4 linked regions of the Homo sapiens genome follow. The protein of the gene in region 2 interacts with the protein of the main gene of each other region in a biochemical or structural test. Each region holds a gene or a part of one and is shown on either strand. Other genes may lie near its edges.

Region 1 (7,947 bases), on a different chromosome or scaffold from region 2:
AGGGTGGTCCCCACGGGGGAGGGGCTCCAGGCCTGCCAGTTTCTTACATGGAGGAGGCTTTAAGGACATTTTCAGGTAACAAAAGGTGGGGCCCTACCGAGGGGAGTCCAGCTGGGACCTGGCATGAGCACTTTAGACATTAGCCGGGGAACACACAGGGAGGGCGCTGTGTGGCCCCCCGAGAGCCAGCTGGTGAGCCCACGAGCCTCAACCGAGGGGCTGGCTCAAGGCCAGGTGTGACCCCTGAGGACAAAATCCAGCTCAGGTTCTGTGACACTGAACTTGAACCCAAGGCCTGCGGGTCTGGAGATTCGGGGGGGAAGAGGGTGTGGACAGCCGAGAGCCAGACCCAGTGAGTTCCCGGGCTGTCCAGCCTGCTGGGCCACCTTAGAGCTAGGGGGCTGCAAGGCATCGGGCAGTGAGCAGAGAAGGCAGGCAGGTTTTTAAAAGGCTTTATTGGGGAAACGTAGAGGGGTGGGGACCGTCCTTGGAGGCCTCAGGACACCATCCTCCATGTTGCTGGGCAGTTGAAGTCCCCAGGGGCCCCTGCTCAGAAGCGTGTCACCTGGGGGCAGGGGTGCAGTGGGGGCTGCTGGCCACAGGCTCCCAAGCACTGACCCCACATCCCTGTGAGCAGAGGCCTGGCCCCACCCAGGCCTGGATACCACCTCCCATGGCCCTGAGGCTGGGCTGCAGTTTCCCGACAGCCTAGGACCGCTGGGACTGCTGCCTCTCCCTCTGCTCTGCTCTCCCCAAGGCCAAGGTCGCCCTGCTTCTTTCCCAACCCCACCCCCCCCACATGCCCCAGGGTCCCTCCTGTACATGACAGGGTCACCACTCACCAGTCTCTGCGGGGGCCTCATCTGTGACTCCTGGAGGGGCCCAGCCCGGGGTAACCACTACCCCCCCATCTACGGCGAGAAATCAGAGGCCAGTGGTGAGCAGGCAGCGGGGGTGGAGGGAGACTGAGCAGCCCTGGAGGCCGGCCACCTCACCCCTCGTTGCTGTTGCTCCTGCTCCAGGTTCCGCTGCAGGACCTGCTGCTGGTTGGCAATGACACGCCGGATGCCGTTGACAAAGTTGCCCTGGTCATGGGGGATGAGGCCAATGAAGATTTTCTTCTCTGAAGAGTACAGGAGCATAAGCACGCGGATCTCACACGATGCTTTGTAGGAAAAGTGCACGCAGCCGGCCTGGCAGGCACAGGGCGTGGTGTCACCAGACAGCACCACAGGGACCAGCATCCCTCCAACCACGGCATCATGCCGTGGGCTCCATGAGCCAGGCACAGCCTAACTGCTCTGTCCTCACACCCCCCACCCACCCTGGAGGTGGGCCCCCTTATTGGGATGACACGGTGGCCAAGAGCAATGGGTGGGCCAAAGGCCAACAGGCTCTGTCGGGAAGGGCCCAAGAACCTGCATTTCAGAGCTCCTGGGCAGGCCAGGCTGTGTCTGGGGCCACCTCACCACAGCCACCTGAGCCAACCGGCCATGGCTTCAACTCAGGAGCCCGAGGGATCTGCAGCGGCCGGCCCAGCACAAGCAAGGGCTGAGGTACATGGAGCCTTTCTGGGTTTCCTTGAGGAAACTTTTTTTTTTTTTTTGAGACTGAGTTTCGCTCTTGTCGCCCAGGCTGGAGTACAATGGCATGATCTCAGCTCACTGCAACCTCTGCCTCCCGGGTTCAAGCCATTCTTGTGACTCAGCCTCCTGAGTGGCCATCATGCCTGGCTAATTTTTGTATTTTTAGTAGAGACGGGGTTTCACCATGTTGGCCAGGCTGGTCTCAAACTCCTGACCTCAGGTGATCCACCCGCCTCGGCCTCCCAAAGTGCTGGGATTGCAGGCGTGAGCCACCGCACCCGGCCCCTGAGGGAATGCTTGAAATTGCTTTCATGTAAAAGCACCTACACCCAGGCCCCCCCCACCCACGAACAGCTTCGTGGACAGTTTACTCAGACTGAGTCGAAGGTAATTTTAAGGTAGTTTCGGGATATTACCCAAGTATGGCCCAGCTGGAAGGTGGACATCGGGGGGAGGGCTCAGAAACACCAAAGTCCAACCTTCTCCACCTCACAGATGGAGAAACTGAGCCCGAGAGAGAGAAGAGGAGTCAGCTGAGCCTCCCCCAGATAAGACAATCGCCAAATATTCTGGGACCTTGCTGGGGGCAGACAGCCCTCCCTGCCCAGCAATGGGCCTTTGGGATGTGGCACAAGCTCCCGGGAAACCAGGAGTGACAAGGGCGCCTGTCCCTGAGGAGTGGAGAGCGCGGAGTTGGTGCTGAGTCAGCCCTGATGTGGCAGAGGAGGAGCAGGCCCCCGCAGAACCAGGGTCAGTGCCCCATCCAGTGCCGTGGGGACAGCACAGAGCCCCCAGAAGTCACGCCCACACTAGCCACCCTCTCTCCCCAGCTGGTCTGGGACATGGTGCTCTGTTCCTCTCCCATGTCCGCCCCCGTGAGCGGTCCGGGCTCGCTCTGCCCTGGCCGGCCCCTCCCCTGCGTCTGCTGGCACCACTCACGAAGCCATTGTCCATGATCCGGCACAGGCTCTTCAGTGTCTCCAGGTCCTTGGTGAAGTGGAACTGGACCAGGCGCGAGTTCCGGAACAGCGGCACTAGGGTGGTCTGCGGGGAAGCGAGGGGACCCCCAGCTCTGGCTTCTCCCACCACGGCCTCCCGGCTCCCAGCCCGCTGAGTCCCCCGGGCCCAGGACCAAACTGAGACTCCCCTGTCCTCCCTACCTCAGGAAACGTCATCTCCACCGCTCAACCAGCCCAACCCTGGAGTGCTGTGGAAGCCGCTCTCAGATCCCTTGGCAGCCCCCCAGGTGCAGGTCGTGGCTGCCCCTGCCCCGCTCAGTCCCTGCACAGCCACCAGCTGGCTGCCTGGGACCCCTTGAAGCCAAGCCTGAGGAGCTACCCACCACACCTGCTTCAGCACCCTCAGCTCCGCTCCCTCACAGCCAGCTCAGGCCACCTGGGGAGGCGCTCTTGCCCCCAGCCCCGCCCTCTGGAAGAGCTACTGCGTGCAGGCTCCAGCACCCGGCCCCAGCCCCTCACCAGCAGCTGCTGCGGGATGAGCTGCATGTACAGCTTCCTTGGCCACTGCTCGGTCCTCCTGTGGGGCACAAAGGGACGAGGGTCAGGAAGCCCCAGCTCCCCTGGATGCTGCCTCCACCCCCCAGCCCAGCACTCACAGGATCTCCCCCTGGTTCACGTAGACGTGGGATGGCAGCCACCTCTTGGACCGACTGTTGGGCTCAGGCCTGGGCTTTTGGGGGAGAGGCAAAGAGGAGCCCTCAGGGCTGGAGACCCCCAATGCCAGTGTCCCCTCCCAGCCACAGTCCGTGAGGATCTGGGGGTCCCAAGTCCCTGGGCTGCCGAGTGCTCACCTCCTGCCACTCCATGACACCACTCCATGCCAGAAACTTGTTGTTGACGATCTGGACTGGGCCTGAGTTGACACCACCAGGTCCCACTGCCTGTTGGAAGGGAACGGGGTGGGAAGAGGGGCCCAGGCTCCTGGGAAACCTGTCTGTCTGTCCTGGGGCCTGCCATCCCTCCCTCCGAGCCTTGGCCTGTTAGCCCCAGCTGGGTCCATTCTCTAGTCCCAGGGGAACAGGCCCTGCCCCTCATCTGCTCACAGCCCCCCATGGCTCCCCAGTGGCCTGAGACAGGTCCCGGCCCTCACCTGGTGCACAGGACCTGCAGAGTCTGCCTCAACTGGCAAGGCATGACCAGGACACGTGGTTACCAGGCAGGGCCTTCCAGCCGCAGGACGATCCCAACCCCTGCCCAGCTCCCCGCTCCGCTGGCTTCCCTGCCGCCGCGCCAAGACCCACCCTCCAGCCCTGCAGAGCCGCCCAGTGGCCGCTTTTCCATGGAGCCCTGGTGGGAACCCGCCCGGCATCCTCCGGGCTCCCCTGCAGCTCCTTGCTCCAGCCATCGCATCACACTCCGCCCACACCAAGTCTGGCTGCCCAACCAGGGCAGTGGGGTCTAATCCCCCTCTGTCCCCAGAGGGGCTGTGCTTGGCTGGCACACCTGCTTGCGGGTGGTGATGACCTGCCGGATGGCACTGACGAAGCCGCTCTGGTCGTAGGGGATGAGGCCCATGAAGATCTTCTTCTTGGACGAGTACAGGAGCATGAGCACGCGCACCTCACAGGGGGAGATGTGGGGGAACAGCATGCAGCCCGCCTGCGGGGGCCGCGGGTCAGGACCCTGTGGTCACTGCCCGGGGCCACTGTGCCCCCACCACCCTGGACCGCCCCACCTGTAGGGGATGAAGGGAGATCATCGGTGGACAGAGGCCCCCACAGTCAAGGCCATGGCCATAGGTGAGGGGCCTCTGAGAGCCCGTGCAGCGCCCATCGGCATCCCCCGACCCTGCCATGGCTGAGGTCAGAGTGGCACCCGGCACCCAGGCTGCGGTGAGAATGCCAAGAAGGCACTACCTCCCACCCACATCACCCCCTGCCGCCAGCCCTCCTGACTGCCTGATGGGGTGACTTGGCCTGGGGGTTAAGAGCACAGGCAGCGCCCCACCGTTCTGCTGCCTCCTAGCTGTGTGACCTAACACCAGCCACCTCCTGCTTCTGGGCCTCCATCATCTGTAAAACCGGGTAATAGTGCACACAGTTGGTGCCACATAAAGGCTCAACAGATAAAGTGCTGGTGCCTCTTGAGGATGGCGCATGGGAGAACTAAGCCTGACAGATGTGCCTGGCTGTGGTGTCTAGATGAAGTGGTGTGACCGTCCCAAAACCCCATGTCCCCTCCCCACACCGGGCCACCCCCACAGTGCTGTCCCCTCCACGCTGCCGGCCTAACTTCTCAACCTTGGTGTCCAGCCCAGGGATCACCCGCTCAGGGCCCTGTCCCTGGCCTCCCTGGAGCCATGCACAGTCAGCCTCCCAGGGCCATGCCTGGGGGGTGAGTATGGATGTCCACTTTCCCTACAGACTGGGTACTCGGGGCCCAGATATGGCAGGCCCTCAACAAACGGTGCTGGGTGAAGGGGGAACGGGTCACTTAAGAGACCTCATGCCAGGCACAAGCCCTGGTCTGCCCCTGGTCTCCTGAGGGAGAAGGGAGGCCCTAGCGGAACCCAGGGCGCTCAACGGCAGCTGGGACGGGTAGAGGCAGACTGTCCCAACAGGGAACAGGGACTGGGAATGTCCCAGAGCCAGGTCCTCTGGGCAGACAACTCGCTCCCACCCCACCCCTGCCTCCTCTCCAGCACCTGCCATCTTTCACAGCCCAAGCCCCCTTTCTGACCTGCCCTGCGCCAGAATCTCAGTCACCTGAACAGCCTCACCAGCTGGGTTCACCCAGCACTCACTAGGTACTAAAGTCACCATCTCAAGCGCTTTACACAAATTCCCTCCCTCCAGCCTCCCGGTGGCCCTAGGAAGCACGGCTCCCCTGTCCTCCCTACCTCAGAAAATGTCATCTCTACCCCTCAACCAGCCCAACCCTGGAGTGCTGCGGAAGCCGCTCTCAGATCCCTTGGCAGCCCCCCGGGTCCAGGTCATGGCCGCGCCTGCCCCACTCAGTCCCTGCACAGCCACTGGCTGGATACCTGGGTCCCCTTGGAGCCAGGCCTGAGGACCTACTCACCGCGCCTGCTTCAGCACCCTCAGCTCTGCTCCCTCACGGCCAGCTCAGGCCACTCGGGGAGGTTAGCCCATTTTACAGACCAGAATACCAAGCCCCAACGTGCCACTCCCTCCTGGCTGGCTCTTGTGCCTAGCACACCCATTTACCAGGTCCCTGCCATACGCTATGTGTCCCCGACAGGCTCCTGGGCCCCAACAGGGCTGGCCCCAGTCCCTCCCTGCACTCACGCCCCCAGGGCCACCTCGAAGCTGGGCACAGATGCAGAAACTGGAGGCCTCTCAGGCTGAGTTCCTTCACCCTGTGCTCTACGGAGGGTGCCTGGAGTCAGTCATTTCCAGATGGGGTCCGAGAGGCCACGAGGGCTACCCTCGGCCCCAGGGGAGACCCCCCGACCCCCGCCTGGACTGTGTGAGCAGAGCGCTGCCTCCAGCTGTACTTGTCACCACAGTGCTACAAGGGAGCCCGCCCCACTCACGAAGCCGTTGCCCATGATGCGGCAGAGCCCCTTGAGCGAGTCGCAGTCTCTGTTGGTGAAGTGGAACTGTGCCAACTGGGAGTTCCGGAACAGGGGGCCCAGGGTGGTCTGGGGGCGACAGGACAGACAGCTGGGTCAGCCAGGCATGGGGGTGCTCAGAGTGGATGGGGTGGGAGGGGCGGGTCTCACCAGCAGCTGCTGAGGGATCAGCTGCATGATCAGCTTCTGCGGCCACTGGTCGGTCTCCCTATGGGAAGGAGCTGGTCAGAAAGGGCTGCCCTGATCCCCACGGCCACAGCCACTGCCCCTGCCACCGCCCTGGCTGCCACGCCCCGGCACTCACAGGTTCTCGCCTTGGTTCACGTAGGCTTGGCAGGGCAGGGTCCGCTTCAGCTTTGCAGTGGAGTCAGAGTAGGGTCTGCGCTTCTGTGGGGGCAGGAGGGGCGTCACTGTGCACAGCCTAGATGCCCTGGCCTGTCCCCGCAGGGACAAGACAAGACCCTGGAGGCCAGCCGCAGCCCCACAGAGACTCACCTCCTGCCACTCGAGGACGCCGCTCCAAGCCAGCAGCTTGTTGCTGAGCCGGTGCTCGCTCACGGCCAGACCCCCGAGGGTGAGCCCAGGTGAGGAGGGACCGATGGGACCCAGTGCCCCGAAGACCCGAGCACCTTCCTGCAATGGAGTGGGGGATAGGTGGGAAAACTGAGGCCGGGGCCTGCAAGGACAGGCAGTCCCCACACACCCCAGAGGGGACGTCCCAATATTCAGCCCCAAATCCCCTGCTGGAAGCCCACGGGGCCATGTCCAAACCCTCTGCTCACCCCTCAGGACCCCCACACGCTGGTCCTCATGTCCTTTCCCGCTGCCCACCCTCAGGACCCTTCCTTCCCAGAGCCTGCTGTCACCTTGACACTGGCCCAGCAGAGTCCTGAAGCCTTCAGCCAGCCCCACCTCCAGCCTTTGCCCCAGCTGTGCGCCTGATCGATTCTTGAGACCCAAGTTAGAAGCCAGCTGTAGGGGGCTTTCCCCGTGCCCCAGGCTGGGCCCAGGGCTTCCTTGCAGCCTCCACAGGCACAAGCCGGCTTGCGCTGTGTCTGTCCCACACACCAGCTTGCCCTGTCTTTCCCAGGCTGAAACTCTCCTAAAGCTCCCTGTCATCCCAAAGTTCAATTCCTTCCTCTGGCTCAGGCCAGTGCCCACCTCTCTGGCCTTATAAGTCTGACCCCGGGGGGAGGCAGGAAGGAGATGACAAGAAACACAGAGGGGACTAAACCATCCAGGAGAAAGACAGCGAGGAAAAGGGGGAAACATTTGGAAGACAGCTGGGACACCACCCCCAGAGGGGTCTCACAGACCAAAACATGTAGAACACCAAGAGAAAGTTCTAGCAATAAAGCCAAGCAACGCCACAAATGCTACTCACAGGCACTCTCCCCACTATTTTTATTACTATTTTTTTTTTGAGACAGAGTTTCACTCATTTCCCAGACTGGAGTGCAGTGGTGCGATCTCAGCTCACTGCAACCTCGCTCACTGCAAGCCGCGCCATCATGCCCGGCTAATTTTTTTTTTTTTTTTTTTTTTAGTAGAGATGGGGTTTCACCATGTTGGCCAGACTGGTCTCGAACTCCTGACCTCAAGTGATCCGCCCGCCTCGGCCTCCCAAAGTGCTGGGATTACAGACGAGGGCCACCAAGCCTGACCTCACTTATTGTTTTTTAAAACCAAAAACATCTCAAAGCAAACAAGGGAAAGCTCCGCAAACAGCCTGGCAGCAGGAAACCCACGAGAGTTTCCCCGTAATAGGCGCCTCCAGGCGGGGGAAAACAAATTATAAGGGTGATTT
Region 2 (8,044 bases):
TGTGGCGTGCCAGCTCCTGTGCTGGACTCATGTTGAGAATGCCAAATGAATAGTGACTTTTTTTTTTTTTTAATGTGGCAGGGTCTCACTCTATCGCCCAGGCTGGAGTGCAATGGCACGATCTTGGCTCACTGCAACCTCTGCCTCCTGGTCTCAAGTGATTCTCGTGCCTCAGCCTCCTGAGCAGCTGAGATTACAGGTGCGCGCCACCACACCCAGCTAATTTTTGTAGTTTTGGTACAGACAGGGTTTCACCATGTTGGCCAGGCTGGTCTCAAATTCCTGACCAAGTGATCCACCTGCCTCGGCTTCCCAAAATGCTGGGATTACAGGTGTGAGCCACCGTGCCCAGACTGAAGAGTGACATTTTTTAATCTCTTGTGCCTTACAGTTCAGGTGATTCTCACATTACTATTGTGCCCATTACACAGCTGAAAAAACTGAGGCCTGGAGATATCCTGGGAGGAAGAAATGGCAAAGGTAGCAAGGTACTCTGTGTCTCCTGGCTGAAAGGCCTAAGCATTTTCTCTGAAGGCCAGCTCAAGCCTCTAAGAAAGATTCTGCTCCCCAGATGTGAACCCCTCCCCCAGCTGGAGACCCCCATCACCATTCCCTGGGGGCAGAGGCATCCTTGGCTTTATCTTTTTGTCTGTACTTTAAATTATTTCTAATTTTAATCTAAACTGTGCCAGCTAAATGGTGTCAGCGCCCTGCAGTCACAGCTCTGAATCATCCCCCACCCCTGTCTCCCCCATCGCTACTACTGACACTAAGGTCTGGTGAGGGAGGGGCTGTCATGCAGGCTGAACAGGGCTGGGTACTGGGGGCTCTGTCTGGGCATCCCCCCTCCCTCAAGCTGCTTGGTCAAGGAGATGGGAAGGGGCAACAGACAGGCAGGAAATTGGGTTGGATACTGTCTGGGCTTTCTTTAGCCCCAGCTCCCAGGAGAATGGGAACCGTATAGCTGGGGGTGGTGACAACAAAAGACTTCACATGTGCTGTGTTCTCACTATGGGCCAAGATTGTGTTAAAGGACCTTTAACACAGGAACTTTTGTCCTCACTCTCTCCATTCTGCAGATAAGGACACTCAGCCTTGAGAGGCCTAGCTTGGGTCTCTTGCTCTTAACAGGCACAAGCAAGTATTGGAGCCCAAATAATTCTTGGGTACAGAGCCCGAGGTCTTGGTCACAACACTACAAACCCCAAGACTTGCCCTCTAGCCCTCTCCATGTGCACACCCACATCCTCATGGTCTCCCACACACTCACACACACACCCCCACACTGGGCTCTCACCTTCCCTCCCAGCACTGTCACCACACACCTTGTCACACCCCCTCCTGCCGCTAACACCCACGCCCAGGCACTCTCGGTTCCCCACAATCACAGTCACTCCCCAAGCATACACCGGCAGTTTCATAGACTGTGTCCCACCAGTCACACACTCCTACCGTGGCCACACACTCCCAGGCTTACCCCAGCACTGTCCCATCGCATAGCCCTCACACCACCCATCAGCCAGGTACAGCTGCCCAGACACCACCACACCTCTCTGTCACACACACACGCACACACACAACCACACATATCACACATGCACCATACAGCCTCCCTCTGCTGGCCTGCTCACCAAGCCCCAGCTCACTCCACAGCAGGAACGAGGAAACCCCAGGGATCAGTCCCCTCCCTTAGTGACCAGGTGGGCCTGGTCACAGAAACTCAGTGGCAGAGGGAGAGCCACACGTGAGTACACACACATACACACACTTATACAGATACACTCACACATGAGACTGGTGGGTAGGCACCCAACACCAGGGGCTTCCACAATTAACAGATCTAACGTACTCATGGCCAGTTGGTCACCATGATATACCCAGTGTGCAACACCGAAACCTCCAGACACACAGGGACACACACACTAGCAGGCAAGGACACACACACACACACACACACACACGAGTCTGGTGACAACAAACACACCAAGAATGGTACACACAGTTGCAAAAGACACACACAGAGCCTCAGGACACAAACAGACATACACACATACACACAAGCAAGTCACACATGCGAAAAAGGACACACATGCACAGGCAAGTCCCACAGTGACAGACAGCACAGAAGCTGACACAGACACACAACATACCCACACACCCAGATACCAGTGACTTAGCACAAGGAGACAGCTTCCACGCATACAGGGTAGGCGTCAGAGAAGGGGACCCCCCGCCCACTCACAGCAGATCCTTCTGACCAGGTTTAAGGCGGGGCTCGGTGGGGCTCTCCCCTGCCCCAAGAGAGAGGGAACTGGGGAAGTGGGAGCAGTTCCGATGGTGCTCTCCTTCTGCCGCTCCACCACCAGCCAGGAGGACCCCCCCCCCCGACCTCCTCCCCTCATCTGGTGGAGCCCCCACAACGGGAGTGGCATCTGGGTTGGGGGCGAGTACAGACCGTATCGGGCAGGGGCCACCCTGGGAGGGGTCTCAGAGGGGCGGAGGGGTGGGGTGGGAAGGGGGATGGTGGAGACTGGAGCCACGCCCAGCCCAGAGACGGATGAAGGGACCGAGAAAGACTCTTGAGACCGAAAGAAGAGACAGCGAGGAGGAGGCGCCGCGCGGGTCGGGCCTCCAGGGACCCAGGGGCGGGAGGCGAGGCCCGGCGGGCGGCCTGGCCTGGGCCCCGCGGTAGAGCGGAGAGGCGGCTGGACTGGCAGGGGGCGGCGAGCGTGGGCCGGGGGCGCGGCTCCGGGAGGACGGGATCGAGGGGGCGGCGGGCGGGGGTAGGGGTGTGGGTGGGGGTGGGGCGATGGAGCACGCGGAGGGCAAGGGACGGACGGATCGGGTGGCGAGGGACAGAAGGATCGGGTCTCGGAGAGGCGCGCAGGGGGAGAACACAGAGTGGGTGGCGACAGACGGACGGACACAGGGCCCGGGAGAGAGTCGGGAGGGACGGACGGGCCCCTCGGAGGAGCGGGAGACACACGGGCGGGTGGAGGGGCCGGGAGCGGGCAGACAGAAGGACCTCAGCCCCCACTGTCTAGCGGAGGGACACACAGACGGACAGGGGGACGGAGTCACCGGCAGGTCTCGGCGCGGCGGGACTTTCGCTGACCGCGGCTCAGTTTCTCAGTTTCGGAAACGGGAACTGGGGCGGGAAGGGGGAAGGAAGGGCGCCGCGCCCTCGGGGTAGCCCCGATCCCGCGCCCGGACCCGGCCCTCACTTACCTCCCGTTGCAGGGGCAGGCGCCAAGGGTCGCGGCGGCAGCGGCGGGGGCGCCGCTCCCCGGCGCGCGCGGACGGGGTTCGGCGCGGCGCTGACTGGGATGGGCCAAGCGGCCAGTGAGGTGTGGCCCGGGCCTCCGCGCGGCGGGCGGGCGCCGGGGGTCGCTCGGGAGATGTGGGCTACAGCCGCCTCGGGCTCCGGCGCCGCGGCACACGGAAGTGCGAGGGGGCGGGGCCGAGCGACCTCACCCAGGTGCCGCCGGCCCCGCCCCCGCCAGGCCCCGCCCCCGCCAGGCCTCGCCCTGCCAGGCCTCGCCCCGCCAGCTGCAATCGGGGACAGCGTCCCTCCGCCTCTGCCTGCGCGGGACACCGAGTCTCCCGGTCCCTCTGCCCTGCCTGGCCCTCTTCGCATCCTCCCGCCATTAGCGCGCAGCCAGCCCTCAGAAGGGGCCCATTTTACAGAGGAGGACGCTGAGGCCCGGTGGGGAGGCTCCCTCCGCCCGCTGGGGCCTGGGAGGGGCCGGCGGGGGTTCCCCCGCTCCCCACACCCACGCCCGGGACTCCCCACTGGCCAGCTGGCCCGCCTCTCCTGGCCCCACTCCTGCTCTTCCTGTTGGCTGGAGCTCGGACGCGGCCGGGCGCGGTGCCCGCCGCCAAGCCCGCTGTCCCGGCTCTGCCCCAAAGACTGAGCTGGTTAGACTCCAGGGTCGGAGGTTCTCGCTGGTCGGGCGCTGCACTGCTCCTCAGGCGGTTCTGGGAACTGCCCCTACTCGGACTGGCAGTTGCCCCTACCCCGATTGGCAGTCTTCTGCTTTCCTGCCCCCACCTTTGAGACCTCTCTATTGCTCCTGGCAGGCGCCTGAGCCTCCTTTCCAGACATGGAACTTGGTTGTCAGCCATAACTCCTTCATTCATTCATTCACTCATTCATCTATTCACCGAGTGTCCCCTAGGCTCAAAGTCTAGGGACCAGTTGGGGTTCTAGGGAGTCCATTCCCCTGTCCCCAGAGCTCAGAAAGCCAAGACATTAGCCTTATACTCATCCAAAGAAATGTCACTTCCCAGGAGACAAAAAAGAGGGTTCCAGGTCCTGGGGAACCACCTAGAAGGGATAGAGAAAGTCTAGACAGCTCTTCCCAGCTGAGACACAAGGGATGGAAGTGGGGGACAATCCCTGAGGTGGCCTGAGCTGAGAAAGGGGCTTGTGACAGAGACAGGCCATTGGACTTTGGTCTTCTCACAGAGCAATGAGAAGGTGGTGAAAGCTATTACAACCAGGCAGGATGACAGGCTCAAGGGGGCTCCTGCGGGATAGATGGGGCAGAGGGACAGCAGGGCAGAGGAGAGGCTGGATGGGGGACAGAAGGGCTGCCACGTTGTTCAGGTGGGAGGACCCTGGTTGAGATTGCGGAAGATGGATGGGGAGAAAAGGCCAGACCAGGTGGGTTCAAGGACTATCCTTTGGGAAAGACTTTCTCTTCACACCCAGGCCTTGAGCATGCTGTTCTCTGGGCCTGAATGCCATTTCCCACCCCACCCCCAAACCTCTACCTGCCCTGGTTGTGTCCATTCAAATGTCCCTCCTCCCTGATGCCCAGTTGTAATGCACGGCACTTCCCTGAGTGAAGGACCATATTCATTAGCATGTTCTGTGTCCTGATCCCATCCCACCCCACCCATCATGCCCCATGGCTTCCCTGGGGTTGGACTGGAGGAAAGGGTAAACAAGGTGAGCCTCAAGTGACCTTTGCCCACTTGGGATCGGGTTTCCTTCTGGCTCCTCCTTCAGGTCCACAGTAAGCCAACCCAGTCTCTCCCTCAACATAAACAATAGGCCCACCCTGTGCCAGGGACTGCAGCCAGAGGGAGGACTGACCCTTGAGGAGCTCCAGGTCCAGCCACCAGACCTTTGTTCCCACTCCGTGTGGTTCACCATGGAAGAAGGAAATGAATAATCATGGCTATCGCTGATAGGGGCTACCCAGCACCAGGCTGTGTGCTGGGTGCTGGATGTGGGCAGTCTGAACAGTTCTCAAGAGGTGAGGGCTGCTGTTAGTGCCAGTTTTGGTGATGAGCAAACTGAGGCTCAGAGAAAGGAGAAGCGACTTGCCCCAGAGTACACAGCTAGTCAGTGGCAGACGCAGATTCAGACCGAGGTCTGTCTGGCTCCAAAGCCCATAGTTTACATCAGGGATCTCAATTTCAGCACCACTGACCTTTGGGACAGATGATTCTTTGCTGTGGGGGCTGCCCTGTGCACTGTAAGGATGTTGAGCAGCATCCCTGGCCTCTGCCTAGTGGATGCCAATAGTACCTCCCTGCTTTAACTTGTGACAGACAAAAATGTCTCCAAACATTGCCAAATGTCTGCTGCAGGGCAAAATTACCCCTTGTTGAGAATCACTGCTTTGACATATACTGGTGTTACAGGAACAAGATTTACATTAGACAACAGGAAGCACTTTCCTGATCCTCAGGATATGCAGACTTGTGAGCTCAGGGGCTGCAAGCATACACTGGCTTCAGCCAATCTTTCTCCTCTAGAGAAAGGGGAAGTGCGATGTACTCAGAGAGGGTCAGAGGGGCTAAGGCTGTGCTAGCTATGCTGTGGCGAGGGCAGAGAAGGGATGAAGGTGGGCTTCCCTCCAGGCCTTAGGTCCAAGGGTTCCAGGGAGAATAGGTTTGCATGAGGTCCAGAGAATCCAGGCCAAGCTTGACTAGAACCACCCTGCATCTTGGAGCTGCTTCTGGGTGCCACACTGGTGGGCCAGGGCAGGGTCCAGATGAGCTGGTATCTGTGTCCCCATAATCTGCCTTGCATCAACAAGAAGGGCCTGCTGAAGCCTGAGAGCAAACCTTGGCTGTGTCACATGCCAACTGTATGACCCTGAGTAGGTGACCATGCCTCTCCCAGCTTCAGAGTTCTCACCTATGAAAAGGGCTGATGACAGACTCATGTCAGGAGTTGAATGAGGTGGTAAGAGTTAAATGAGATGATATATACAGAGCCTCGGCCAGGCTAGACACATTGCCCAGGGTTACAGCCTGGTCATGTGCCAAGTCACAGGCTGTCAGCCTTGAAAGAGGCTTCAATGGCCTCTCCTGACATGGGGCGTAAATCCCTGAGCAGGGCTAGACTCATAGCAGCTGCCTAGAGGTGATACTTTCCTCCTCCTCCAGGTTTGCAGCCAAGGAGATGGGCTAGGGTGGTGCCAGGCAGCTTCCAGACTCCCACCCACAGCATCCACCCAGGGCTGTTCCTTCTGTGGGCCTCCTGGAGGATTTATCCAGAGGAGAAGCAACTTGACCCCTGCCACCTCTGCCTCCTCCAAAGGCCATCAACCCTGGGAGGCCTCCAGACTCCTCCACTCCTGAAGTCCAAGACTCGGCCAAGCAACCTGGAAAAGGCCTCCCTCTGTCCCTGAGGCCCACACAGCTGAAGGCAAATGGGGTCCCTCACTTGATCCCTGCCAAGAGTTGGTCCTTGTCCTGGCATTTCTGCTTTTTGCACCTTCTCTCTGTTTCTGTCTCTCTGTGTCACCATCCTTGTCCCTGAAGCTTTGGTTGCCACGGCAATCCCCATCACACCCAGAGCACTGGCCTGGCCAAGAGAGAGTGGGCTTGTGTTTCTGGAGCAGGAGACACAGTCAACAGCGACAGTGCACCTGGGCAATTGCTGGGGGCAGCAGAGCCTGGGAGGTTCCCACTGGGGACAGTGTAGTAGGAAGGACACTTGGGACATGCCCATGCCTCAGGCCACCAAGACTGTCATCGACAGGAGTGTCAGCCTCAGGTACTAGGTTAAGGACAAGCAAGGACAGGCTGAGGGGGACAGTGGCCTTGTGGGTAGTGCTGCACAGCAGGGAAGTGCCAGCCCAGGGGCTGGTTCGCATCCTGGCTCTGCCCTGCACTGCAACTTAAATGTGCCTCAGCTTCCTCATCTGTGGAGTGGTGTTTGGTTAAGATCGACCTCCTGAGGCTGAGAGGATGGAAGAGTTCAAGTTCATCCCATGTTGGTGTTACCTGCCAGGCAGAGAGTTGGTGAGGCTGGGCTAATTGCCTCCATGTTCCTTCCTCAACACATTTGTGTTTGGGTGAAACCTGAGACATACTTGGGGGTAGACAAGGGGAAGGTGTGTCCTGGGAGTGCAGAACACAGGGCTTTCCTGTGGCTCTCCCAGGGGTGTGTACCCTGGACTGTCCCTTCTCTGCACTGACCATGGCACAGCCCCTGCCAGCCTGAGTCCCCTTCCCTGGCTCCTCTGCCCCTGCCCCCAAACATGTGTGTAGGTGGGGAGAAGGGGCACTGGTGTTGGGACAGTCATCAGCAAGAGCTATCCCCTCGCACGGAGTCCAGGGGACCTCCCAGCTCTCCTCCACCGCCCCCATCCCCGGCACCCATTTAGCTCTAATCTACGGGGTCCCTACTGGGAGGCTCATGGGGCTTAGCAGGGCAGGGAGGGCTATAAGCCTCACCTGCCTTTCCTTTCGCTCCCTGGCCTGAGGGTGCCTCAGCTCCCCGCTCCCACCTCTCAGCCCCTCATCCCCCACATCCTCAGAGGACAGCTCACCAAACCCAGCTTGGCCCATGGGAAACAGTGTAGGGGGTGGCCCTGAGCTGAAAGGCGGCTGCTCGAGGTTGGCAGGCTGGGAAGGACTGACTGCAGGCACAGCAGGGTCCCCCGCGCCGTGCACACACCTCCATACCCACCGCACAACCACGTACACGCCAGTCGGCGCGACCCCCGTGCACCAGCACAAAGTCCCCCGGGCCCCACCCTCCCGCCCCGCCCCGCCCCGCCCCGCCTCAGGGAAGCCT
Region 3 (7,947 bases), on a different chromosome or scaffold from region 2:
TAAAAAAATATTATGACTGACCTACTGGCAATTTGTCAAATTTTCTATGGGAATCAAAAAAGGTCTGTTCAAATCCAGACTCACTTAACCTGTATTTGCAACATACATATGATATAAGCATATCTGATTAGATGTTGATTAGAGATGATGAATAAAGCTCCTATTTAACTAATTTATTTTCATGGCAAAAAACAATGAAATTAAATTAAGACATGCTTAATTTAGTTGAACAATCTAAAAATTTAATAACAAATCTGACCTGATCTGTCATAATCATTATCTTCCCATAACGAAGCGTCTTCAATGAATCTTCATCTTCATAGTTTTTCTTGTACTGAAGACCCACAATCTTGATGATATTGTTAATCTCAGCATTTTCCATGATCTGAAATGGACATATACCAAAAAAAGCATCGTTTATAAATTTGAAAAGAACAAAGAAATTTAACAGTATATGTTGCTTGGATTTTCTTGAGCTCCAGTATTTTGAGCTATTAGCTTATAATTTACTACATCAGAAAGGTCTGTTAAAATAGGCTACAATGTACCTAATTTCTCAAAATAAGCACAAATTGTCTAAAATATATTTTAAAATGCCTAATGAGGGAATTAAATATAAGCATAAAGTCTTGTATTATAAATTAGATTTAGATTCTGAAGATCGTCTTATATTCTACCTGCTTATGAGAAGCTTCTCGAACATTGAGTATTTTTCCTCTAAGAGGGAAAACCCCATATTTGTCTCTCCCAACCACACCAAGGCCTGAAACAGCCAAAGTTTTGGCTGAATCTCCCTCAGTCAGGATAAGCGTACACTCAGTGGAGTTTCGGCCCCCTAAAATAAAAATATACATATTAATATTAGCACATTTAGTTCAACCTCAAATATACTAACTTGAACATGCTGTTTATAGCCTTGTGATAAAACACAATTTACTATATAATGAGCAAAATTATTTGTTAGGTAATAGATCATAATATAAACATTCTTGTTTTATACTCCAAAATAATCACCTCAATATTATTTATAACATGGAAATGACCTAAATCTTCCATAATAGGAAACGGGCCGATTTTTAACAAGTTATTCTGTTGAATATAGTTATTCTGTCAAGGGAAAAATAAATATCCGTGGTATGCCATTAATGAATAAAATAACAACTATAAGACTTAAAAGTTTGGAAACATTATTAAATATATACCTGCATCATTGGCATCATCGAGTTTGGGAATTCCCTTGATTCTATTATGTTTTACAGCTGAACACTTCTTGTTTAACTGGACTTGGGCCTTAAACTTCACCCAGTTTAGTATGCTTTCTACAATACCACAGCCAATGGCCTGAAAACGAGAAGATTCATATTAGGGATCATATTAGGGAAGAAGGGATCTATCAGAAATCTAGAATACAAATGAGCCTTAATACAAATAAAAATGATTCAAAAATTAAAAAGATGTAGAACAATAATTTCTGGATAGAGGGTGGCACATCTTCCCATGTCAGGTTATCACCACTGAGGGAGCTGCTCCTTTTGGTTCATTCGTTCAATAAATATTTACTATATAATTATATTGTGCTAGCACTGAGCTACTTGTTGGAGATATAGTGGTTAAAACAAATTAGACCAGGCACGGTGGCTCACGCCTATAATCCCAGCACTTTAGGAGGCCAAGGTGGGCAGAACACCTGAGGTCAGGAGTTTGAGACCGGCCTGGCCAACATGGCGAAACCCCGGCTCTACTAAAAATACAAAAATTAGCTGGCGTGGTGGTGGGCACCTGTAATTCCAGCTACTCGGGAGGCTGAGGCAGGAGAATCGCTTGAACCCAGGAGGTAGAGGTTGCAGCGAGCCAAGATCGCACCATTGCACTCCAGCCTGGGTGACAAAAGTGAAACTCCGTCTCAAAAAAAAAAAAAAAAAAAAAAAAAAGGGTAGCCAGGCATGGTGGTGGTGAAATGGCTGTAATCCTAGCTGCTTGGGAGGCTGAGGCAGGAGAATTGCTTTAACCTGGGAGGCGCGGGTTGCAGTGAACTGAGATCAAGCCACGGCACTCCAGCCTGGGAAACAGTGAGAAGCTGTCTCCAAAAAAAAAAATTAAAAATAAATAAATAAAATTAGACACAAATAAAACAAATTGAGACACTTGTCCTCATCAAGTTTAAGACACAACATAGAAGACAGACATAGCTGGGTGCAGTGGCTTACGCCTGTAATCACAGCACTTTAGGAGGCCGAGGATGGTGGATCAAGTGAGGCCAGGAGTTCAAGACCAGCCTGGCCAACATGGTAAAACCCCATCTCTATTAAAAATACAAAAATTAGCTGGATGTGATGGTGCATGTCTGTAATCCCCGCTACTCAGGAGGCTGGAGAATCCCAGCTACTCAGGAGGCAAGGAGAATCGCTTGAACCTGGGAGGCAGAGATTGCAATGAGCCAGGATTACGTCACTGCACTGTAGCCTGGGCAACACAGCAAGACTCTGTCTCAAAAAAAAAAAAAAAAAAGACTGGGCACAGTGGCTCATGGCTGTAATCCCAACACTTTGGAAGGCCGAGATGGGTGGATCATTTGAGGTCAGGAGTTTGAGACCAGCCTGACCAACATGGTGAAACCCTGTCTCTACTGAAAATACAACAACAAAAAAATTAGCCAGGCATGGTGATGCATGCCTGTAATCTCAGCTACTCGGGAGGCTGAGGCAAGAGAATCACTGAAACCTAGGAGGCGGAGGTTGCAGTGAGCCGAGATCGTGCCACTGCATTCCAGCCTGGGCGACAGAGCGAGACTCTGCCTAAAAAAAAAGACAGAAATAAAATAAGTTACAGTGTTATAAGTGTTATGGATAAGCAAAAAGTTTGCTAATAAGGTATGTTCAATATTATATTGGAACCAACTTAGGTGGGGGGAAGGGTAGAAAGTAAAGGCTTTCCTGAGGAAAGGACAAGACCTAAAGTAGCCAGGTGAAAAGGATGTATTTCATGCAGAGGGATTAGCATGTGAATAAACTCTGAGGAGGGGAAGAGCACTGTGCTTTTCAGTAATTTAAAAGCAACAGGACAATATACGAAAAACTGGCACTGAGATGAGTTGGAGAAGTAGGTGTAATTAGATTACAGCAGATCTTTCTTGTTGGCCAAATTATGGAATTTGGACTTTCCCTGAGTGGAAGTCATTGAAAGATTTCAAATGAGAGTGAAGATAAAAATGGGTGTTTTAACACAAAAGTCACTCAAAAGCATTCCAAGGAAAGGACTTAACCAGTATGAAGGTTAAGAACCTATTGTAGTAAACCAAAAAAGAGATAATGGTGAGAAGCTACTGCAGCATCCAAGAGATGATTCTTATTGACCGGATTAGAGAGGAGGGGAAATAAAGGAAGGCTCCCAGCTTTCTTGTTTATACAACCTAGAGGTTGGTTGGGGCTTTTTACTAAGATAGGAAGTTGTTTTTTTGTTGGAGAGTGGGGGGCTGCTTGTATGGGCAAATCAGTGAGTATGGAGGTAACAAATTCAATTTTGGATGTGTTGACTGAAAGCAAGTCTTAGGCATTTAAGTGAGGGTGTTTGTTAAACAGCTAGATTAATTCAAAAGTGATCTAAGCTTAATGGTAAAATGTAATTGGGAAATACTGAAATATAGACGGTCATTAAGTCTTTGGTAAATCAGTTAAAGTAAAGCCCTTTTTTACTTCCTTTTCAGATTGGGAAGACTTGGAGAAGCTCACTATGAGAAGAATCATTGTTTCTGCAGAGCTAAGAAGTGCAATGGAAAATAAAGTCAGGTGTTTCTATTTTTATTTTCCTCTAAGTACTCACAGCTTTGATAAATTTTTCACTCAATTGGCATGTTGATCCAAAGCTCTTGGGTTGTAAAGTCATGTTTTCTTTTGTCTGAGAGTCAAAGGTTGGGTTTTCAATTAAGGCATTTACAAAAATCCACATGTGATTTTTCACCTGCAATAGAAGTTGATATTAAGCCACTAAAAATGTACTCATGCTTTATTTATAGCCTTTCTCTTCTTCCTTGACTTTAGAAAAAGAAAACTGCCAAAAGCACATACCTGATGTGCTTTTACTGCAACACCACCCTTGTTCTTCTTCTTCACAACATCAACAAGTTTAGTCACAATCTGATCAGCTACATAATCAACATGTCTGCCACCCTAATAAGGAAAAATACCAAACTGTAAAACTCAGTATCCTCAAAATTATAATAATCAAACATTAAAAACTAATTTAACCTCCTTTATACTAAGCTAGCCCAATATTCAAGTCCACTTTATATATTAAAAACAATAAGAACACATATATGTAAAGATAAATCATGATTAATAATTTAAGAATAAAATTACCTTGGATGTAGCAATGCTGTTGACAAAGCTAATTTGCTGAAAGCCTTTTTCACTCATAGTTAAACACACTTCCCACCTGTGGTTTACTTGTTCATGTATTACTTTCAAGGAGTTACCAGTTTCATCCAACTTGTCCTTCAAATACATGTCCACATAACTACGAAATCCTTTTACCTGTACAGGAATTAAAGGTAACAGTATTAAGAAAGTTATTAAAAAATAGGTTCAATGATAGACTATGAGGACTTTCCAAAACCAATGCAATGATGTTCACTGATAGGCATAAGGGAATGGTCATTAAAGGACACAGGCCGAGGTGGGTGGATCACTTGAGCCCAGGAGTTCAAGACCACCCTGGGCAACATAGTGAGATCCCCACCTCTATTAAAAAGAAAAAAAAAAATTAGCTGGGCATGGTGGTGCTGCCTGCATTTCCAGCTACTCCAGAAGCTGAGGTGGGATGATCGCTTGAGCCTGGGAGGTCCAGGCTGTAGTGAGCCGTGATTGCATCACTGTACTCCAGCCTGGGTGACACAGCGAGGTTATCAAGAAAAGAAAGAAAAAGGAAAATAAAAAAAGGACATGAAATATTTATTTTAGGTGTTTCTTTGAGAAAGAAATTCCTTCGGTAAGTTTAAAATGAGCTGATTAAAAAATGTGGCATACCATTCTCTTTTCAAGAACATATGTGAGAAGTGGTAAGAAAATACATATGGTTGGGCCAGGTGCAGTGGCTCATGCCTGTAATCCCAGCACTTTGGGAGGCCAAGACGGGTGGATCATGAGGTCTGGTGTTCGAGACCAGCCTGGCCAACATAGTGAAACCTGTCTCTACTAAAAATACAAAAAATTAGCCAGGTGTGGTGGCAGGCACCTGTAATCCCAGCTACTTGGGAGGCTGAGGCAGGAGAATTGCGTGAACCTGGGAGGTGGAGGTTGCGGTGAGCCGAGATCGTGCCACTGCACTCCAGCCCGGGCAACAGTGTGAGACTCTGTCTCAAACAAACAAACAAACAAACAAACAAAAACATATGGGAGGGGAAAAAATTCAATTTTGCACTTGACAATGATTACAAAATCCCTTATTATCCTTAACATCCAGGAAAATACTCACTGGCAGTTTATTTCCATTAAGAAAGACTTTGACATCTTTGGTGGATCCAGCAATATCATATGCTCTTCTGACCATTAGTGCAACAATATCTTTGTCCAGGCTTTGCATTTTAAACTTAGACAAATCAGGCTGAAAGGTGATACATGTATAATCTTCTCCATTGAAGGGCTTGAGTTCCATCTCACCAGCTCTTCCCATATTATCCATCCATGTCTATGGAAGTAAAGAATAGGAAACATGAAAAATTCAAGTCATCTCACAAACTGGAAGTAAATAACATAAATTTATGAGTCCTAATAACCTAATATATATGCTTATAATTTTCCATACTTCAATAGCTTATAAATTATGTTAAATTAAACCAATCATTAATGCCATTATAAATGGCTATACTACTACCATTTATCATTAAGGTACAAGACACTTATTTACTTGCCTGTTTGAACATTTTCTTGTATTCTCTACTGGCTGTTTCCACAGTAAATTTGGTACTGAATATGTTACACAATTTGGCTCCATAGCCATTTCGACCACCTGGGCAAATAAATATGAAACACTATTTTATTGTTACTATCTCATTGACAGCTTTATTTCTTAATCACTGGCAGAGCTATTCAATTATAGAGATTTATTTCCATATCTTTAACCCTCATGCCACAGACAGTCATTTAAATATATATATTTTTAGCAACAAATATGTTATTTCCCCTCAATACTCTACCTGTCACTTTCTTTTCATCATCATCATAGTTACTAGAAGTTAGGAGCTGTCCAAATATGAGAGCTGGGACATACATCTTTTCAACTTTGTGTTCAACAACAGGAATACCTTTTCCATTATTCCATATACTAATTAAATTGTTTTCCCTAAGAAAAAAAGATTGAAAATTGTATTTTACAACACATTAAACGAATGCTTAACATTTAAAAATATTTAAATACTATTATTTCTAAAATATGTATATTCAGGCTGGGCGCGGTGGCCTGTGCCTGTAATCCCAGCACTTTGGGAGGCTGAGGAGGGCAGATCACTTGAGGCCAGGAGTTCTGGCCAACATGTTGAAACCGTCTCTACTAAAAATAAAAAAAATTAGCCAGGCATGGTAGCGCATGCCTGTGATTCCAGCTACTTGGGAGGCTGAAGCAGGAGAACTGCTCAAAGTGTTGGGGTTATAGATGTGAGCCACCATACCCAGCCCTCAATTTTTTTGGCACTTTTCATATATACCTTCTGAAATTCAGCAGGAACATTTCCCACCATGCTTAGTTCCTGACATTCCTGAAATAGGAGTCAAGAGGAAAAAAAAACCTTTTCCAACACCTGAATAGACACTGATAATGTTGAAAAAATACAAAATTTTAAAATGTTAGGATAAACAGAGGGAAATGATTTATGCCCAATGGAAAGAAAAGGACAATCTGGAAACATTATTATACACCACTCCCACTCCTTTTTTGAGACAGCATCTCGCTCTGTCACCCAGGCTGCAGTGTAATGGCAGGATCACAGCTTACTGCAGTCTTGACCTCCTGGGCTCAAGCAATCCTCCCACTTCAGCCTCCTGAATAGCTGGGACTACAGGTGTCCATCACCACACCTGGCTAATTTTTAAATTTTTTGTAGAGATGAGGGTCTCACTATATGGCCCAGGCTGGTCTCAAACTACTCCTGGGCTCAACTGATCCTCCCACCTTGGCCTCCCAAAGTGCTGGGATTACAGGAGTGAGTCATCATGCCTATTATACCCCTTTCAAGAGGATCATCTATACATCTCGTTCCCACTCAACAAAGTACATAAAAACAGGCTGGGCGCAGTGGCTCACGCCTGTAATCCCAGCAATCCCAGCACTTTGGGAGGCTAAGGCAGGCAGATCACTTGAGGTCAGGAGTTCGAGACCAGCCTGACCAACATGCAGAAACCCCATCTCTACTAAAAAAAATACAAAATTAGCCAGGTGTGGTGGTGTGCGCCTGTAATCCCAGCTACTCTGGAGGCTGAGGCAGGAGAATTGCTTGAACCCAGGAGGTGGATGTTGCGGTGAGCCGAGATCATGCCACTGCACTCCAGACTGGGCAATAAGAGCAAAACTCCATCAAAAAAAAAAAAAAAAAAAAGGAAAACCAATATCAATCATAAACTGCCTTGCTCTCAAATAAAATGCTGAAAACTTATTTCAGTTATTTTAAGTTAATTCTTGGATGGTACTATATTTTAGTTAATAACTCGATATACATTATGGTTCTTGTTCTACATAGTACTTATTATCTATAAAAAAAACTAATTAAAATTAGCTCAACTTTTTTTTTTTTTTTGAGACAGAGTCTTGCTGTGTCACCCAGGCTGGAGTGCAGTGGTGCAATCTCGGCTCACTGCAAGCTCCACCTCCCGGGTTCATGCCATTCTCCTGCCTCAGCCTCTCGAGTAGCTGGGACTACAGGCGCCCACCACTACACCCGGCTAATTTTTTGTATTTTTA
Region 4 (5,144 bases), on a different chromosome or scaffold from region 2:
TGCTGGTGGCAGGCCCCAATCAGGGCTTCCAGGCCTGCAGCACAGGCCCTGGGGGAATGCGGTCGAGGGACAGGCAACGTGCCTGGGCCCAAAGGGGTCAGGGAACCAGAACCACTTCCCCATTCCCAGGGTGTTGTGGAGCCCACCCCAGGGGCAGCAGGCTGGTGGGGCAGCCGGGGTCAGGGAGGGGGCTGGGCCTGGTGCCAGCGCCCGGATCTGACCCAGCCTCTGCTTATCTCAACCCTGTTGACTCTGGGCTGTTATCACTGCCCAAGGATTTACTTCACACCCGGACAGCTAAGAATAGAGCCACCTGGGGGGCACCATGCCAGGGGGCAAGGAGGGCGTGGGCCAGGCGAGGAGAGGGGAGAGCCACTGGCACACAGAGCTCAGTCACGGAGCCCAGTCACGCTAGCCCTCCAAAGCCCGCCTGGGTTTCGTTTCCTCCTTCCTCTTGTGCTGCCAGGGTTAGCCAGAGGTGGCTCCTCAGGCCACCCCTACTCCCCAATGTCACCTCCTCCTCACATCTCCTGCTTCTCAAACAAACTCGCTCCTTACTGCCTCCTGGCCTCCCTGTCTCCTCCCCCAGCCCCCTCACACACATTCTGACCGCCCTGCTGCCCACGGGTCACAGATGAAAGATCAGAAGTTGGCGCAGTGGGAGACCACGTTTTATTCAGTCCAGTTCAGGATCCCCGCTATCTCAGGGCTCTCTGGGCCAGTCCTCCTGGGAGCCCCCACCACAACACTTCCCAGGCATGAGCCCTCAGGGGCCCACATGAGCTTCCACACACTGAGAAGTGTCCGAGAAATTGGTGGGGCCTCTGAAGGAGGCTGTGAGCAGCCCACCTGAACTCCCAGCTCACCAGCCCAAACAGGGTGCAGGGGCTCTGGCCCTGAAGAACCTGAGTGGAGTGGAATGGCACTGGCTGGCCACTCAGCTCAGCGGGCGACGTGCCCCTACAAGTTGGCAGAAGTGGCTGCCACTGCTGGGTTTGTGTAAGAGAGGCTGCTGCCACCATTACCTGCAGAAACCTGGGTGGAAGGAAAAGAGATCCAGGGTGAGGAGCAAAAGGTACCTCCTAGAGCCCCTGGATGCCACCCCAGGCTGGGGTAATCAGTCCAGAGTCCTGGCCAGCTCTCAAAGGGTTAATTCAGAGAGAGCACCTGCCACCCCACCAGCCAGGTGACTGTAAACAGGGCTGCCCTCCTCCCTCTGCTCTCCTTCACTCCCTCTTCTTGGCTCTAATCAGCCCCCTTGTCCCTCCATTCTCTGCTGTTCCAGCCTAAGGAGGTGTGTGTGTGTGTGTGTGTGTGTTTTGGGGGGCGGGGTGTATCTGTGTCTTTGTAAAGCCGAGAGAGGGAGGTCTCCAGGAGGAGGAAAATAGGAGCAAGAAAACTAAACTCTCTCCTCCCCCACCTGGAGTGGTTTTCCAGCCTCAGGTGGCTGCAGTAATTATTTACTAGGTCCCATAGAGAAAGACCAGGAGAGGAAGGAGGGAGCGTTCCTTGCTTCCTTGAAGCTCCCAAGAACCCCACTGGCACCCACGCTCACCTGGTCTGCTGACACTTCTTCTTCTACCTGGGAAACCTCCCCCTATGCCAGCCTTTCTCGGTCTACCCTCCATTCCTAGGAGATGATTAGGGGCACAGAGGCTCACCCCTGGGACTCCTCGGGAAGGGCTCCCCTGGGCATAGTGCTCCACCCATTTTGCCTCTGGGTGCAAAAAAGCAAAACAAAACAAAACTGCCACGGTGGCACCAGTTCAGCCAGCGCCAGCCAGCATGAATGTGGACGGCCAATGATCTTTTAGGAATTCTGGCAGTGGGGCCACTCCCTCTTGAGGGCCCCTTTCTTCCATAGTCTCCTCCCAGGCCTGTCCCCCAAAACTCCTCTGACCTCTGCCCCTCATCCTTGCCAGGCCCTCCCCTGCTCACTTCACGCCACTTCTCACCTCTTCCAAGCTCTTTGGGTTTTCCAAGTACCCCCTTCAGAATCCTTGCCCAGCCAAACCCTCTGCTTCCCCTGGCCTGTGGGGCCCAATCTCACCTTCTCATAGGGGCTACGATCGGTACTGCTAGGGGGCACATAGCGCCCATGGGTGTGGTAGGTGGGGTACTCGCTCATAGGATGGTAGGTATCCCGGGCTGGAAAGATGTCCAGCTGCCCGTAGTTCTTTCGGCGGCACTGACAGACAGCCTGGGGAGATAGGAGGTTATGGCAGGCCATGGAGTGCCTTCTACCGGGGGGCTCTGATCAGGGCCAGGGACTGCACTCACCAAGGCAATGAGATAGACAATGGCCAGCGCAACCAGAACACAGACCAGCACCAGCAGCGCGATGCCCCAGCCTGGCACCCCAGCCCCAGACTGGGCAGAGAAAGGAAATGGCACATCACTCACTAAAAGGAAAAGCAGTGGTCAGGGCAGTCTCCCAGAGGAGGCGCCCCTCCCGCTGCCAGCACTAAGGAAAGAGCGGGGACCCAGACACTGGAAGGAGAGGGGCCCCGGCATGGTGCTGGGCTGCAGCCAGGGAAGTAGCCTCACCGCTGACGTCTGAGATCGTCAGGTTATATCGAGAGGCTGCTTCCGTTTTATACTGATTGAACTGTGTCTCCACGTCGTGGACATTGATGGTACCTTCTCGGAAGGCCAGAGTCAATTGTACCACCACAGATCCTGGCCTGGTCACAGGGAAATGGGCACTTCAGCCACGGGTCCCAGCTCTGGCTCAGCACTCTTCCCCCAACCTTAAGTGCACCAGTCCCTCCCTACGGTCATGACCACCACCCACCCTCCAACCACCACACTGGGTCCACACCCAGAACTGTACCTGAACTTAATATTGGAGAGGCCCAGAAAACCCCCTTGTTTATAAATCTGCAAAAACTGGGGTGAGAGGGAAAGGACTCAGGCTTGATGCAAAGGGTGTGGACAGTTCTGATGGCTGCTTCAGGGGAGCATGGGGAAGGAAAGGCCGATACTCACCATTTCAGAAATGTCTCTCTGCAGCTCTTGGTAGTAGTCGGTGCTGGGATCTTCCAGAGAGGAATTAAACTGGAGGTTTGAAATGTGAAAAGACAGGAAAAAGAAAGAGACCCCAGTAGACAACTGGGGAGAAGTGCTGTGATTGGAGGAGGTGAGAGGAGGTACCGTGCTATGGTGAGTGCTACTGGCATCAGTCTTGGTGCTATGGCTGGCAAGGGTGGTAGGAGTATCAGAGTGGTGGCTGGGAATTGAGAATGGAGTGCTCTTGCTGGCTGGGGTTGTGGTAGCCCTGGCAGAGGTGCCGTTGTGCACCAGAGTAGAAGCTGAGCCTGATGCAGAGCCTGAGGCCGAGGTGACATTGTGGACTGGAGGGGCGGTGGAGCCCAAGGCGGGCCTGTTGTCCGGGGCCGAGGTGACACCATGGGCTGGGGGGGCGGTGGAGCCCGGGGCCGGCCTGGTGTCCGGGGCCGAGGTGACACCGTGGGCTGGGGGGGCGGTGGAGCCCGGGGCCGGGGTGGAGCCCGGGGCCCGCCTGGTGTCCGGGGCCGAGGTGACACCGTGGGCTGGGGGTGCGGTGGAGCCCGGGGCCGGCCTGGTGTCCGGGGCCGAGGTGACACCGTGGGCTGGGGGGGCGGTGGAGCCCGGGGCCGGCCTGGTGTCCGGGGCCGAGGTGACACCGTGGGCTGGGGGGGCGGTGGAGCCCGGTGCCGGCCTGGTGTCCGGGGCCGAGGTGACACCGTGGACTGGGGGGGCGGTGGAGCCCGGGGCCGGCCTGGTGTCCGGGGCCGAGGTGACACCGTGGGCTGGGGGGGCGGTGGAGCCCGGGGGCCGGCCTGGTGTCCGGTGCCGAGGTGACACCGTGGGCTGGGGGGGCGGTGGAGCCCGGAGCCGGTCTGTTGTCCGGGGCCGAGGTGACACCGTGTGCTGGAGTGTCGGTGGAGCCCGAGGCCGGCCTGGTGTCCGGGGCCGAGGTGACACTGTGAGCTGGGCTGCGGGCGCGGTGGAGCCCGGGGCCGGCCTGCTCTCTGTTTTAAATATACACCGTGGGCTGCGGGCGCGGTGGAGCCCGGGGACGGCCTGGTGTCCGGGGCCGAGGTGACACCGTGGGCTGGGGGGGCGGTGGAGCCCGGGGCCGGCCTGGTGTCCGGGGCCGAGGTGACACCGTGGGCTGGGGGGGCGGTGGAGCCCGGGGCCGGCCTGGTGTCCGGGGCCGAGGTGACACCGTGGGCTGGGGGGGCGGTGGAGCCCGGGGCCGGCCTGGTGTCCGGGGCCGAGGTGACACCGTGGGCTGGGGGGGCGGTGGAGCCCGGGGCCGGCCTGGTGTCCGGGGCCGAGGTGACACCGTGGGCTGGGGGGGCGGTGGAGCCCGGGGCCGGCCTGCTCTCCGGGGCCGAGGTGACACCGTGGGCTGCTCTCGCGGTGGAGCCCGGGGCCGGCCTGCTCTCCGGGGCCGAGGTGACACCGTGGGCTGGGGGGGCGGTGGAGCCCGGGGCCGGCCTGGTGTCCGGGGCCGAGGTGACACCGTGGGCTGGGGGGGCGGTGGAGCCCGGGGCCGGCCTGGTGTCCGGGGCCGAGGTGACACCGTGGGCTGGGGGGGCGGTGGAGCCCGGGGCCGGCCTGGTGTCCGGGGCCGAGGTGACACCGTGGGCTTGGGGGGCGGTGGAGCCCGGGGCCGGCCTGGTGTCCGGGGCCGAGGTGACACCGTGGGCTGCGGGCGCGGTGTAGCCCGGGGCGGGCCTTGTGTCCGGGGCCGAGGTGACACCGTGGGCTGGGGGGGCGGTGGAGCCCGGGGCGGGACTGGTGTCCGGGGCCGAGGTGACACCGTGGGTTGGGGGGGCGGTGGAGCCCGGGGCCGGCCTGGTGTCCGGGGCCGAGGTGACACCGTGGGCTGGGGGGGCGGTGGAGCCCGGGGCCGGCCTGCTCTCCGGGGCCGAGGTGACACCGTGGGCTGCGGGCGCGGTGGAGCCCGGGGCCGGCCTGCTCTCCGGGGCCGAGGTGACACCGTGGGCTGCGGGCGCGGTGGAGCCCGGGGCCGGCCTGGTGTCCGGGGCCGAGGTGACACCGTGGGCTGGGGGCGCGGTGGAGCCCGGGCCAGAACTGCTTTCCGGGGCCGTGGTGACTCCGTGGGCTGCGGGCGCGGTGGAGCCCGGGGCCGG

The links.
Region 1: of the proteins of PRKCD (region 2) and PTOV1, one has a biochemical effect on the other in vitro, tested with the Homo sapiens proteins (one study listed by BioGRID).
Region 3: the proteins of PRKCD (region 2) and TOP2A form a complex in vitro, tested with the Homo sapiens proteins (one study listed by IntAct).
Region 4: the proteins of PRKCD (region 2) and MUC1 form a complex in vitro, tested with the Homo sapiens proteins (one study listed by BioGRID).

Annotation. Positions count from the first base shown.
Region 1 is NC_000019.10:49,853,232-49,861,178, reverse strand, and holds the end of PTOV1 (prostate tumor-overexpressed gene 1 protein), read right to left. Parts: intron 6,774-7,947; coding exon 6,636-6,773; intron 6,589-6,635; exon of another isoform or gene 6,528-6,588; coding exon 6,445-6,527; intron 6,349-6,444; coding exon 6,291-6,348; intron 6,210-6,290; coding exon 6,102-6,209; intron 4,715-6,101; exon of another isoform or gene 4,205-4,714; coding exon 4,049-4,204; intron 3,487-4,048; coding exon 3,397-3,486; intron 3,276-3,396; coding exon 3,202-3,275; intron 3,123-3,201; coding exon 3,065-3,122; intron 2,833-3,064; exon of another isoform or gene 2,752-2,832; intron 2,631-2,751; coding exon 2,526-2,630; intron 2,337-2,525; exon of another isoform or gene 2,091-2,336; coding exon of another isoform or gene 2,076-2,090; exon of another isoform or gene 2,003-2,075; intron 1,974-2,002; exon of another isoform or gene 1,890-1,973; intron 1,194-1,889; coding exon 996-1,193; intron 912-995; coding exon 900-911; coding exon of another isoform or gene 860-899; 3' UTR 437-859; downstream 1-436. UniProt on the Homo sapiens protein: May activate transcription. Required for nuclear translocation of FLOT1. Promotes cell proliferation.
Region 2 is NC_000003.12:53,156,613-53,164,656, reverse strand, and holds the start of PRKCD (protein kinase C delta type), read right to left. Parts: upstream 3,449-8,044; 5' UTR 3,229-3,448; intron 3,151-3,228; exon of another isoform or gene 3,082-3,150; intron 2,176-3,081; exon of another isoform or gene 1-2,175.
Region 3 is NC_000017.11:40,407,290-40,415,236, forward strand, and holds part of TOP2A (DNA topoisomerase 2-alpha), read right to left. Parts: intron 6,337-7,947; coding exon 6,191-6,336; intron 6,004-6,190; coding exon 5,906-6,003; intron 5,683-5,905; coding exon 5,470-5,682; intron 4,530-5,469; coding exon 4,356-4,529; intron 4,167-4,355; coding exon 4,065-4,166; intron 3,958-4,064; coding exon 3,820-3,957; intron 1,342-3,819; coding exon 1,203-1,341; intron 836-1,202; coding exon 678-835; intron 386-677; coding exon 260-385; intron 1-259. UniProt on the Homo sapiens protein: Key decatenating enzyme that alters DNA topology by binding to two double-stranded DNA molecules, generating a double-stranded break in one of the strands, passing the intact strand through the broken strand, and religating the broken strand.
Region 4 is NC_000001.11:155,185,175-155,190,318, forward strand, and holds the end of MUC1 (mucin-1 isoform 10 precursor), read right to left. Parts: intron 5,029-5,144; coding exon of another isoform or gene 4,066-5,028; intron 3,761-4,065; coding exon of another isoform or gene 3,443-3,760; coding exon 2,989-3,442; intron 2,890-2,988; coding exon 2,834-2,889; intron 2,685-2,833; coding exon 2,548-2,684; intron 2,403-2,547; coding exon 2,281-2,402; intron 2,201-2,280; coding exon 2,051-2,200; intron 1,036-2,050; coding exon 961-1,035; 3' UTR 650-960; downstream 1-649. UniProt on the Homo sapiens protein: The alpha subunit has cell adhesive properties. Can act both as an adhesion and an anti-adhesion protein. May provide a protective layer on epithelial cells against bacterial and enzyme attack.